4 linked regions of the Homo sapiens genome follow. The protein of the gene in region 2 purifies or fractionates together with the protein of the main gene of each other region. This does not show direct contact. Each region holds a gene or a part of one and is shown on either strand. Other genes may lie near its edges.

Region 1 (3,511 bases), on a different chromosome or scaffold from region 2:
ATTTCCCTCTGGACTCCATGGTGGGCGGGGTGTATGGGACAGGCAGGTGGCTGCACCAGAGGGGCTCAGGAAAGCTCGACGCGGAAAGTGTTAAGACTTTTGGAAATGTTGAGATGGGGCGAAAATGTATTTTGCACAGGTGAAGGAAATCAACTTTGGGAATCAGAGGGCAGATTGTTTTGTGTTGAACTGTGTCTCCCAAAAGAGATGCTGAAGTCCTAACCTGTACATGTGACCTTATTTGAAAATAAGGAGCTGCAGATATGATTAAGATGGGTCATAGTAGATTAGGGAAGCTGTCCTTGTAAGAAGAGGAAAATTTGGCTGATACAGAAGGAGGACAGCCACCTGAAGATGGAGGCGGGGACTGGAGTGATGCTGCCACCAGCTGCCAGAAGCTGGAAGCAGCAAGGCTGCATCCTCCTGTATCCCCTTTGGAGGGAGAATGGCCCTGCTGCTACGGTGATCTCAAACTTCCAGCCTACAGAACTGTGAGAAAGTCCATTTCTGTTGTTTAAAGACTCCCAGTTTGTGTACTTTATTAGAGCAGTCCTAGAAAACACATAGAGATTCAAGTCTGGCAAATAATGATCGAACAATGATTTGTTGGGTAAAATGGTGATTAAAACCTAGGTTAGAAAATGAGCAAAGTGGGAGGGAGAGCACCAGGACAAATAGCTAATGCATGCAGGGCTTAATACCTAGGTGATGGGTTGATAGATACAGCAAACCACCACAGCACATGTTTACCTATGTAACAAACATGCATGTTTTGCATATGTATCCCAGAACTTAAAATAAAATAAAATTTTTTTAAAAGACAAAATGAGCAGTGTCTACAGCTTTCTGGAGTATGACAGCATCACCAGCTTAAAGCTGTTGCTAGTACTAAATTGAATAAACATTTCCCTCTAATTTCCCCTTAATGTCCTCAGAAACACAGATGAGGGATACATCTTCATATGACTCCTCAGAGCACTAAAATGATATTAAAACACTCTTCCCACAAGAAACGCACAGACGAGGGATTCTTCAGATAATAGGAATAAGAAATGTGAAATAAATTAGAATAAACCATGCAGCTATTTTAAATATTTACTCCTGGAAAAATAGTAAGTTACACAGAATCAGTTTTGGGAATAACTTTTCCATTTTCACCTTTTTATGATTATTGTAATAATTGGAGGAATTAATAAAGTAAAACCATCTGAATAAGTTCATCCCAAGCTGATTCTGATGGATGGTGTGGCGGATTTTTAAACTCTCCTCTGTCACGGGCTGCTGAACAGAAGGAACCCTGTGAAAGTTGTGTCATCGTCCTCATCAGCAAACAAGCCATTGAACCTCTCTCCTCCTGTCACCTGCAGCCACACCTCATCCCCGAGCTTCAGCTGCAGGACAATGCCGCCAGAGGCCTGGTCCTCAGAGCTCATGTAAGCATCTTTGGTGTGCAGTATTTTTACTCCATTTTTGACCAAAGACACCTGAACATTTCTGGAGAAAACAGTGATGTGGTAGGTGAAGTAATAGACCCCAGCAATGTGGCACGTGAATTTCCCCGCTGCTGTATCATAATGGTTGAATTCGTTATACAGGATCTTATCAAATTTAATGGGCATATCTGAAGAAGGAAACTTGCTCAGCACCGTGAGCCCCACAGTGAAAGCACTTTTTGGCAAGACTAGAGTCTCACCGATTTTCCCTTTCTCTCCTCGATCTCCTTTCCAGCCTCTTATTCCCCGGACTCCTGGCTCACCCTGGGGCCCCGTGGGTCCAGCTTCTCCTTTGGGACCAGGCTTTCCAATAGGGCCCATGGGGCCCGGTAAACCAGTTGGGCCCAAAGGCCCAATGTTGCCCCTTGGCCCCTCAGGACCAGTGGGACCCACGTCACCCTTATTCCCCTTCTGCCCCTGAGGCCCAGTCTCTCCTCGGAGGCCCTTCTCTCCCATGGGCCCTGCAAGCCCCTTGGGGCCATGTTTTCCTGGGGATCCTCTTGAGCCTTGATCACCTTTGATGCCTTTTGCTTCAACTTTTCCATCTGCTCCTAAATAGAGAAAGAGCAAATAAAGAGATAGCTTGTGAAAGATTCCCTTGTGAACAACTTTGGTTTTTCTATAATTGAGCTCACAAATGAAACAAAGTAGTGCACAGGTTCAGTATATGCCCAGAGTTTAAAATTCAATTACTCCATCTGGGTGCAGTGGCTCACACCTGTAATCCTAGCACCTTGGGAGACCGCGGCAGGAGGACTGCCTGAGGCCAAGAGTTCAAGACCAACCTGGCCAACATAGCAATACCCTGACTCTAAAAAAAAAAAAGAAAAAGAAAAATAAGAAAATAAAATTCAATTACTCCAGCCCAGCTCAGTGGCTCATGCCTGTAATCCTAGCACTTTGGGAGGCCAAGGTGGGCAGACTACTTGAGTCCAGGAATTCAAGATCAGCCTAGGCAACATGGCCAAACCTTATCTCTGCAAAAAATACAAAAATTAGCCAGGCGCGGTGGTGCACAACTGTAGTTCCAGATACTCAGGAGGCTGAGGTGGGAGGATGGCTTGAGCCCAGGAGGCTGAGGCTGCAGTGATCCGTGATCAAACCACTGCACTGCAGCCTGGGCAACAGAGTGAGATTCTGTCTCAAAAAAAATAAAAATAAATGAAAATCAATTACTCCAATTACACACGTGTGTGCACATGGACACACACACATCCCAACACACCTTTTGACTACCGTCTACTAAATTAGTGTCAGGGCTCACGTTAGAAATTACAACCCTACCATCTAAGTCTACCATGCTGGCCATTAAATAATGTCAATCCATGACAGAAAGCACTCTTCAGAGCAGAGACAGGTAGATTAACTGACACTCAACCCTAGTCGTGACATCCTCTAAAAACCTCCTCCCTGGAGTGAACATAAAATAAAGCCTGCATCGAGGCATTGCCCTCTCCTGCCCAACCCCAGCCCCAACCCACCTATCCCACCGGCAATTCATCATCTACAGAAACCTTGCTGCTTCCTTGCACCCCCACCCATACCAAAGAGCCGTGGTTGCAAGTGTGGACTCTGAGGTTAAATGCCAGGTTTCCATTCTGTCCCCATATGCACACAGGACGTCAGATGAGCTAGTGAGCCTCGTGCCTCTGTTCCCTCACATATGGAACTAGGGTAATAAAACTACCTAGCGTCTGGGGATATTGCATTCAGTGAGTCAGTACATGAAAAGCACAAAGTGAAGATTACACAAGTTTGCCACTACGACTACATCCCGACCCATCAGGGACCAGTTCTAGTTCCACCTCCTCCATGCAGTGCTGCCAGATGCACCAAGTCAAAAACTCAGTCTCACTCCTCAGTGCTCATCCACTGCAAGGTTCAAGGTTCAACAAACTACAGCCACAGGCCAAATTCAGCCTCCCTCCCGCAAGCTAAACAAATATGGTTTACATGTTTTTTTGTTTTTCTGGGTTTTGTTTGTCTGCTTGTTTTTTTGTTGCTTTGAGACAGGGTCA
Region 2 (2,391 bases):
TGAGTTCTGCGGCCCAGCATATAGAAATGGCTCAGAACGTTCCAGGCCTTGGTGAGACACAGCAGCGTCCAATGCTCACAGGCTGTCCCCACTCTGCCTGTTCCCATCTTCCCCTCGGGACCTGTTTATAAATTGAGGAATGGATGAGGGCCCTGGAGGGTCCTTGGGAGTAGTTAGTGGAGGGCAGGATTCTCAGGTCCCCATAGAGAGGGAAAGAGAAGACCAGATGTGCATAGAAGCCAGTCTCTGTCACATACACCGCAGGTGGTCACCGAGTTATTTTCCAAAAGCTGAGGAACATAAAGCAAATTTAGGCTTTTGTCCTTCTGCAATACATGCACTTGAAAATAAACAGAAAAGAGATGTTTAATAACAAGTTTACTTCCGGTCTGCTAGCACCCTCAGCCTGGGAGCTACTGCCAGAGGCTGGCGTAGTGGGGCAGCTGCTGACCAAACCCCACAGAACAGAGGGCACCAGGCATCACACGACATCTTTCCCTCCCATCTCTGCCATCTGTCTGTCTGGCAATGGAAGGAGCTTCAGCAGGAGGTCCTTCCCAGAAGGTTGATTCTTGGCCTGGGTGGTAGAGGAGATATCCTGACCCTAAAGTCTTCCAGCCCCGGGTCATCCTCTCCTATACTAGGGCCTATTGACCGTAGAGGCCAGGTGCGGTGGCTCATACCTGTAATCCCAGCAGTTGGGGAGGCCAAGGTGGGAGGATTGCTTGAGCCCAAGAGTTGGAGACCAGCCTGGGCAACATGGTGAGACCAATTGACTGTAGGGCTTGTCCCTTGCTAAGACAGGAGCAGAAGACTGGATGGCTGTGTCCTCAAGGCAGTCCCCTCCCATCCCCATTCCCAAAGTCAGAAAGTGAAGCCAGATCTCAAGGGCTGATACCTGAGGCAAGGAGAGCTAAGGGGAGAGAAATTGGGGCTGAGTGGAAGCAGATGCCTGCACAAGCCAAGTGTGTCTTATTGATCTGTACAAGCTGATAGAAGGACCATCTGCTGAAATCCAGGGCTCCTGAGTTGGTGGGTTTGCTTGTGAAGCTTCTAGGACAAGGCGCAGCCAGATGGAAGGGAGAGGGTCCAGGGCTTCCTAAATGCAGCCGCATCACCTGTCAACTCGCTGCAGTTTCAGAGACAGTGGAAGCTGCTCTTTACCTCAAAAGCACAAAGCAGAATTGGCAACTTCACTTGTCTCAAGAGCTCCAAGATCCTTTGGTCTCGTGTCCTTTGGCACCCCGTAACTGGACTGGGGACAAATTTGTTACGTGTTTCCAAGGCTACAGACATGGCGCCATCCTCACAGGCCTAGCTCATGTCATGGATCAGGTGCTTTGCTGGGGGGATACAATGACCCATGTGGTCTGCGTCTTCTGCCATTGGCTTGAACTGGGCACCCCCTGAAGTCTCCATCTCAGCTGTATATTCTAGTCCAAATTTTCCTGGCTCCCCTGCTCCCTCCCAGGTCCTGCACACTGTCTTTTTGCCAACACCTCAGCCCTGTTTGCTATTTCATGTCTGCATGGTACGAGACACCCCTTCACGGCATACACTGCCATGGTATGTACATATGCATCCACGTGTGTGTATGTGTAGCATGTAGCTCATTCTGCTCAGCCTCTGGCGCCGTTCCACATTGCTCCCAGCCCCATTGCTGTCACTGTCGTCCCAGATGTCCTTGCCATGGCCACAGACAATCTGCCGTCTCCTGGAAACGCTGGGGCTGCCCTTCAGAGAGCTGGCAGCCCCAGCAGTCAGGGCCTGCTTTGCAGAATAGAATGTGAACCCAACTCCTGATGGCCTACTTGACTTATTTAATTAAAGATGAAATCATGCAATGAGCAAAACCTGCAGCGTGTCTCTGCCTTTTCCTTTGCATTTGTTCTCAGCAGCAATTGGGTCATAATTTTTTTTTTTTTTTAATTAACAGTGGTAGAAAGGAGGTGACTTCCAGCATGAAGCAGGACAGAGAATCCCCCTGCCCATTCCCAAGGGACCAAAGGCACTAGGGGAATATGGGGCAGGATGAATGTACCTTGCGTCACCAGGCTGGCAGAGCTGATGGGGACTGCGCTGAGCGGAGAGAGAGAAAACCCAGGTATTTGGGGGCAGAGACAGGAGTGTTGGGCCAGCGGTCAGGGGGCCTGGGGATGAGTCCCAGCTTTGCCACTGTCTGGCTGTGTGACCTTGCATAAGTCACTTCCCTTACTTGGACACCAGTTTCCTTTTAGAATGAAGGTGTAATCAGTTGTTCACAAACATTGTTCCCAAAAAGCCCCATTAGGGATTCAAAAGTCAGCTGAAAGGGCAGGCGGCACCCTCTCAACAAGAGTCACTGTGCGTTTTGATCTGCTTCACGTGTTCAGATAGCATTTCAGATTTATT
Region 3 (2,650 bases), on a different chromosome or scaffold from region 2:
AATTCAAGTAGAGCACAACTAGCAAGATAGTAGGTTTCAGTTAAACCTTATATATGAGTACATTATGTGTAAATGGTATAAACACAAAATTAAGGACATTAATTTTCAGATTGGATTAAAAAACCCAAATTATATGCTGTTTACAAGAAACCCAACCTCAACTAAAAAATATAGAGTTGCTAAAAGTAAAATGGGGGAAAAAACTTATCACGTAAAATCCAAGCGAAAGAAAATTGGAAAGGCTATAGGAATAACAGACAAAGTAAAATTCAGAACAAAGACTATTATCAAGAATAAAGGGTGCTATTACATGTTGATAAAAGGGACAATTCAGCAAGGACACAATACAATTCCAGAAGTGCATTCACCTAAAAATGCAACGTCAAAAATTGAGGAAACATCTGCTAGAACTGAAACGAGAAACAGATTAACCCACCATTATAGTTAGAAAGCTTATACTTCTCTGTTAGAGAATCTGTTAGTAATCAACAGAATGACTAAACAGAAAATCAGTAAGGCTACGAAAGTGGTGAACCAGGCTATTAATCAGTTTATTAATCTATTTTTTATATATAGACTTTTCAGTAGACAACAGCATAAAACATATTCTTTTCAAGTTCAAATTGAACTTTCACCAACATAGACCATATTCTGGGCCATAAAATAAACATTGGCAAATTTAAAATAATTGAAATCATATTAAGTTTGTTCTCTGACCCTGATAGAGGTAAGCCAGAAATCAAGAACAGAAAGATATCTAGAAAAATCCCAAATAATTTGGAAGTAAAAGAACACAATTTTAAATAAACCATGGGCCAAAGGAAAAGTCACAGAGGAAACTCTTAGAACTGAACTAAAATAGGTGAATTTTACTGTATTAAATTATACCTCAAAAAATCTGACTTAAAAAAAAATCCTCTCTGCCTTCCTGAATACTATGTCTAGCATTCAATCAAAACCCTCCAAGTGTGCCAAAAAACTAAGATTAAAAAGAAACAAAAAACAGAAGATAAGATCTACAGGCCACTGAGGTGTTTAAAATGTCTTTAAAAACGACTCTGACTGGTGTGTTGAAGAAAATGGAAGATGGTGAAAAAAATAGGTGAAAAAGTGGAGAAGTGGAGCCAAGCATTGGAGTCTACACTGGCTATTCTATAACTGAAATTAATAACTCAATCAATGGTTTTCTATTTATAAGCAAATTAGATACAGTGAAAAGCATTATTAGTGAACTGGAATATAGGTCAGCAGAAAATATCCAGACTGAATGTGAAAAGGAAAAAAGAATACAAATCCAGAAACTAGAACAAGAGACATATGAGACACGAGCAAACATTGGCCATTGGTGTAACTGAAATATCTGAAAGAGAAGAGGGAGTAGAGTAATAGCAATATTTAAGAGATAATGGCTAGCATTTTTCAAAACTCATGAAAGACATCAAGTCACAGATTCTATGAACCCCAAGCAAGACAAATTCAGAGAAAGTCTCATCCAGGCACCTTGTAGTAAAACTATCAAGGCAAAGAAAAAAAATTTTATAAATGTATTTTTTGAAAAAAGTCATATTACCTTCAGAGGAGCAACAAGACTTTCAGCTAGCTTTTCAGCTGAAATAACTGAATCTGAAAATACTGGACATCTGTATTTACAGTGCTAAAAGAAACTAATTGGCAATATAGAAGTCTACACCCAATCTAAATACTATTTAAAATGAGGCAAAATAAAGATGTTTTCAGATAATAAAAGTGGACAGAATTCATCCTCAGCAGACTTTCATCAAAAAATATATGAGGCTGGGCACGGTGTCTCACATCTGTAATCCTAGCACTTTGGGAGGCTGAGGCGGGTGGATCACTTGAGGTCAGGAGTTCAAGAGCAGCCTGGCTAACATGGCGAAACCCCATCTCTACCAAAAAATACAAAAATTAGCCCAGCGTAGTGGTGCACACCTGTAGTCCCAGCTACACGGGAAGCTGAGGCAGGAGAATTGTTTGAGCCCAGGAGGTGGAGGTTGCAGTGAGCTAAGGTCATACCGCTGCACTCCAGCCTGGGGGACAGAGTGAGACCCTGTTTCAAAAAATAAAAATAAAAAATATATATGAAAGGGAGTTTGTCAGGCAGCAAGAAGATGATCTCACACCAAAAATAATAATAATAATAAAATAGAAGAAGGAATAAAGGGCAACATAAAGTGTAAAAATGTGGTAAAAATGAATACGGACTGCACAAAACAATACTAATAGCCATTTCTTGCAGGACTTTAAATAAATGTATCATAGCATGGCGGCAAGAATGGCATAAAAAGCAGAAGGGAGTGAATGTAGTTAGAGGTGTTTCAAAGTCTTCATTGGTAAAGTGGTAGAAGGAATAATTTATAGTATACCGTAAAAAATCAAGGCTATATATTGCAATCGCAAGCATAAACACCAAAAGATAGGAAAAGAATGAACAAGTTATAAGCTGATAGAGGAGGTGACGGGATAATAAAAATATTCAACAAAGACGAGAGAAGATGAGGAAGGAGAGGAAAAGAACAGAAACAACACTATGTGGATGTCCACGAATGCCCAAATGTTGCTGGATGGGCCCACGCCTACACTCCTACTTGAGAGGTCCCATGGCCAGGAAGAAGAGCACTGGCCCAAGAGG
Region 4 (3,559 bases), on a different chromosome or scaffold from region 2:
CATTGGGGTAACAAATAAAAAAGGAAATCCTATAATGAATATGGGGACTTCTATGTTACCACCACGCCTTTCCTATTGGGGCATGAGACTCTCCCAAGCCATGAGGCACCTATGAAGCAAAATACTTTTGCTGATGATCCAGATGGTATTACCAAAATGGATAGGGAGTTTTACTTCTAAGATGACACATATTTCTATGGCTTTTCCCCTAAAACAATAATTAATATTCAATAAATTATGATCATTACATTTTCACAGACACCAGAAGCTTTATACATACAAAAATATTTATGGGTTAAAACGTCTCTAACCTGTCTGAGTTTGCTTCAGTTGCAATTTTAAATCGGCAACCTGAGTAGTTAAACTCTTTACAGAAGCTTTGTAACCTAGAATCTGGGCCTTCAGCTGTGCAGAATGCTCAATCTGAAAAGATTCAGAATAGGAAAAGAAATCAATGTAAAACAAATCACAGCTTGCTTCAAAAGGAAAAGTTCTCTTATCATGTTTGTACTCTTTTTGTTCTGCCAATTCCAAGAAGCTTTATGACAGTAAACAACAGGGTCCCTATTAAAAAAAAACACAAGCAGAACACACAAACAAGTTCTTCACCATCTTTTTCAGTCATATCAAAGAACTCTAGGGCATGCAGGCAGAAATCAGAAGACAGTGAATGTTTGTAATACTTATCAGGGTGAGAATCGAGAGATAACAGTGGGCACCATCAGGCACTCAGAAAATTTTATGTTTAGGTGAGTTTGCTTTCTTCTCCATTTTATTACTATTACGAATATAAAGTCACGTTATCACTGCAGAATTTTCTCAGATGAGAAAGGATACCTTTAGCATATTTGGGGGAGTAATGTTTGATGTTAAAATAAATCTGATTTACACTAGTGTGACTTGTGCCAAGTTTACGTAACTATGAAGTGTACTGGTATCACACTAGAACTGAAGAAGAGCAATACTCACTTCGTCTTGCAGTTGTTTGTGCAGAGCTTGCCTGCAGCTTTCGAACTCCTCATGCTCAACCACTATAGCCTTTTCGGCTTTCCGTAGTTCTTTCTGAAAGACTGCAAGTTCAGGAGCCGGCTGAGCTAGGCCTAAGAAGGTAAAAAAAAAAAAAAAATCCTAGTCATTACCAACCTTAAGTTTTCTTATTTAACTTAACAAAAACAGTTAAAGGGGTTTTAAAGTGTTCTTTGCTTTGTACTGACTCAATAAATATGATAATAATTCTATTAAATGAGCTCAGAGCAATCCTGACTCTCAAATTTCACAACAAAAGAATTTAGTGCATGTTAATGCAAACTTTATTACCCTTGGAGTCCTACTCCAAGTAAAAGAACTCTTTCAAATTCTCAAATTAACCTGAAAGCCTGTTTCTCTCCTCTACTGTGCACAGAAGGAGCTCTCTATCTGGTCTACCTGTTGATGACAGCCCTGGGATCCAATATGATCTGGGCATCTGACAGCAGCAGTTGGGATCCAGGCAGAAGGCAGATGGCTCTCACGGTCAAGGTCATCTAAGAACCCTTTAATAAAGGTTGACTTATTCAGGGTATGCACAAAGGATGGTGGAGTTCCCTGGGTGGGCTAGTAACAGGGCCATACTGTTAGCGCTCCTTGGGCCTGGGGAATCAGAGGAGGGAGAAATTCTCAGCACTAGAGACAGGGTGGTGGTGCAGAGCACTTGGAAGAGGTAATCGCAGGCACTATGGCCTCACTTGGCCATGAGGCACAGTGGCCAGCCTAGGGCCACTGTATGTAGAGGCTGGTGTCCCCACTGGCCAAACCCAATCAGCAGTCAGAGGGCAAGGGAAGCTTTGATACCACCTATAGGCAGGTTTGCAGAGTTTAATCCAAGAATCTTAATTTTATAAATCTTCCCAATGTAAGCCCCCTACCTTATACAAGTACAAAGCATAGTTTTATAATACTGACCTAATGCGAATTACTAAAACACGCAAGTCAGAAGAAAAGAAAAATACATACGGTTTAGGAGACGCAGGTTTTCATTTCTACTCTCTTCCAGTTGTTGTTTAAGTAATTTATTTTGTGCCAGAAGCTCCAGTTTCTCTTCTTTTAGTAGTGAATAATCACTCATCTCTTTAACCTTTTCATTCAGCATATGGTTTTGTTTTGTTATTGCCAAAGACTGGGCTTTGACAGACTCTAATTCAAGCTAAAATTCAAAAAGGAAAATTTACATTTGAATAATGACTTTACAGTACTGCAAAAGTAAAAGCTGGCAGGCTCCTTTAAGCATGGTGTCACAATTTAATTAAGGTCACTAGACAGAAGTCTGATTCTCTACAATAAGACTCTAACTACAATAACGAAAATTATCTTCCGCCCTACAGTTGGGGCAGAACTTTTATAGGCCGCATCCCATGAAGCAAGTCCTTCTAAGATTATCATCCCATTTTCCAGAGGCAACCAAGAACCCAACAATAATCACACATCATAGCAATATATATTTTTTAAATATGAAAGGTAAGATAAAAATGGCTGAGCATGGTGGCTCACGCCCGTAATCGCAGCACTTTGGGAGGCTGAGGCAAGAGGATTGCTTGAGCTCAGGAGTTCGAGACCACCCTGGGCAACATGGTGAAACCCCATCTCTACTAAAAATACAACAATTAGCTGGGTGTGGTGGCACATGGCTGAAATCCCAGCTACTTGGGAGCTGAGACATGAGAATCACTTGAACCCGGGAGGTGGAGGTTGGTTGCAGTGAGCCAAGATCACACCACTGCACTCCAGCCTGGGCGAAAGAACAAGACTCTGTCTCAAAAAAAAAAAAAAAAAAAAAAGGGAAAGAAAGGAAAAAAGATTCTGTAAAATGTTGTGAAGTGCTTCCCTTTTCTTAGTATATCTCATATTTGAGTAAAAAGCCTACAAAGTTCTCACATAAGTCACAGTTGCTAAAATAAATTTCATATACAAAATATGTTGTAAGTACCTAAAGTTCCAGCTTCATCCTTCAGACAGCAAGCACACGAATGAACAGAAAAGTAAAGAAGCAATGATATGTGAAAAATGTACCTCATTTTGTTTTAATCTGTAAGATAACAATGTAATGACAGGAATTTTGTTTACCTGCTGCTGATGGAAGGAGATAACAGGCTGATGTAGAAACTAATAGTAATGGCCACCTGCTATGAACTAGGCACATAAGTTAGCTTACTGAATTCCCTCAACAACCCTATAATGTGGAAAACATCCTAGTTTACAGCTCAGGAACCTGCAGTCACAGAACTTACCTAGCGACACACAAGCAGTTAGAGACACAGACAGGATGTGGGCAGGACTCCAGGACCCAAAGCTCTATCTACACTTTCCTATGTGACACTGACTGAAATTAAGAACTATTGAATTAACTTCAGCTAACACCTTCTTAGCCATATAAATGGCAGTCCAAACATCTCAACAGGATGACTTAGGATAAATTATGTATGACTAAAATTTCATATATTGCTTAAAATCTATTTCAAAAACCAACATGCTTAACAATTACCTCAAGTTCTTTCACACGATTTACAGATTGATTGAGTTCCTC

The links.
Region 1: the proteins of CHST3 (region 2) and C1QTNF9 purify together in Homo sapiens (co-immunoprecipitation; one large-scale study listed by IntAct). This does not show direct contact.
Region 3: the proteins of CHST3 (region 2) and FCN1 purify together in Homo sapiens (co-immunoprecipitation; one large-scale study listed by IntAct). This does not show direct contact.
Region 4: the proteins of CHST3 (region 2) and OFD1 purify together in Homo sapiens (affinity purification with mass spectrometry; one large-scale study listed by BioGRID and IntAct). This does not show direct contact.

Annotation. Positions count from the first base shown.
Region 1 is NC_000013.11:24,319,529-24,323,039, reverse strand, and holds the end of C1QTNF9 (complement C1q and tumor necrosis factor-related protein 9A precursor), read right to left. Parts: intron 2,045-3,511; coding exon 1,272-2,044; 3' UTR 509-1,271; downstream 1-508. UniProt on the Homo sapiens protein: Probable adipokine. Activates AMPK, AKT, and p44/42 MAPK signaling pathways.
Region 2 is NC_000010.11:72,011,706-72,014,096, forward strand, and holds the end of CHST3 (carbohydrate sulfotransferase 3), read left to right. Parts: 3' UTR 1-1,853; downstream 1,854-2,391. UniProt on the Homo sapiens protein: Sulfotransferase that utilizes 3'-phospho-5'-adenylyl sulfate (PAPS) as sulfonate donor to catalyze the transfer of sulfate to position 6 of the N-acetylgalactosamine (GalNAc) residue of chondroitin.
Region 3 is NC_000009.12:134,902,705-134,905,354, forward strand, and holds the end of FCN1 (ficolin-1 precursor), read right to left. Parts: 3' UTR 528-2,650; downstream 1-527.
Region 4 is NC_000023.11:13,755,201-13,758,759, reverse strand, and holds part of OFD1 (centriole and centriolar satellite protein OFD1), read right to left. Parts: coding exon 3,518-3,559; intron 2,183-3,517; coding exon 1,993-2,182; intron 1,101-1,992; coding exon 970-1,100; intron 424-969; coding exon 312-423; intron 1-311. UniProt on the Homo sapiens protein: Component of the centrioles controlling mother and daughter centrioles length. Recruits to the centriole IFT88 and centriole distal appendage-specific proteins including CEP164. Involved in the biogenesis of the cilium, a centriole-associated function.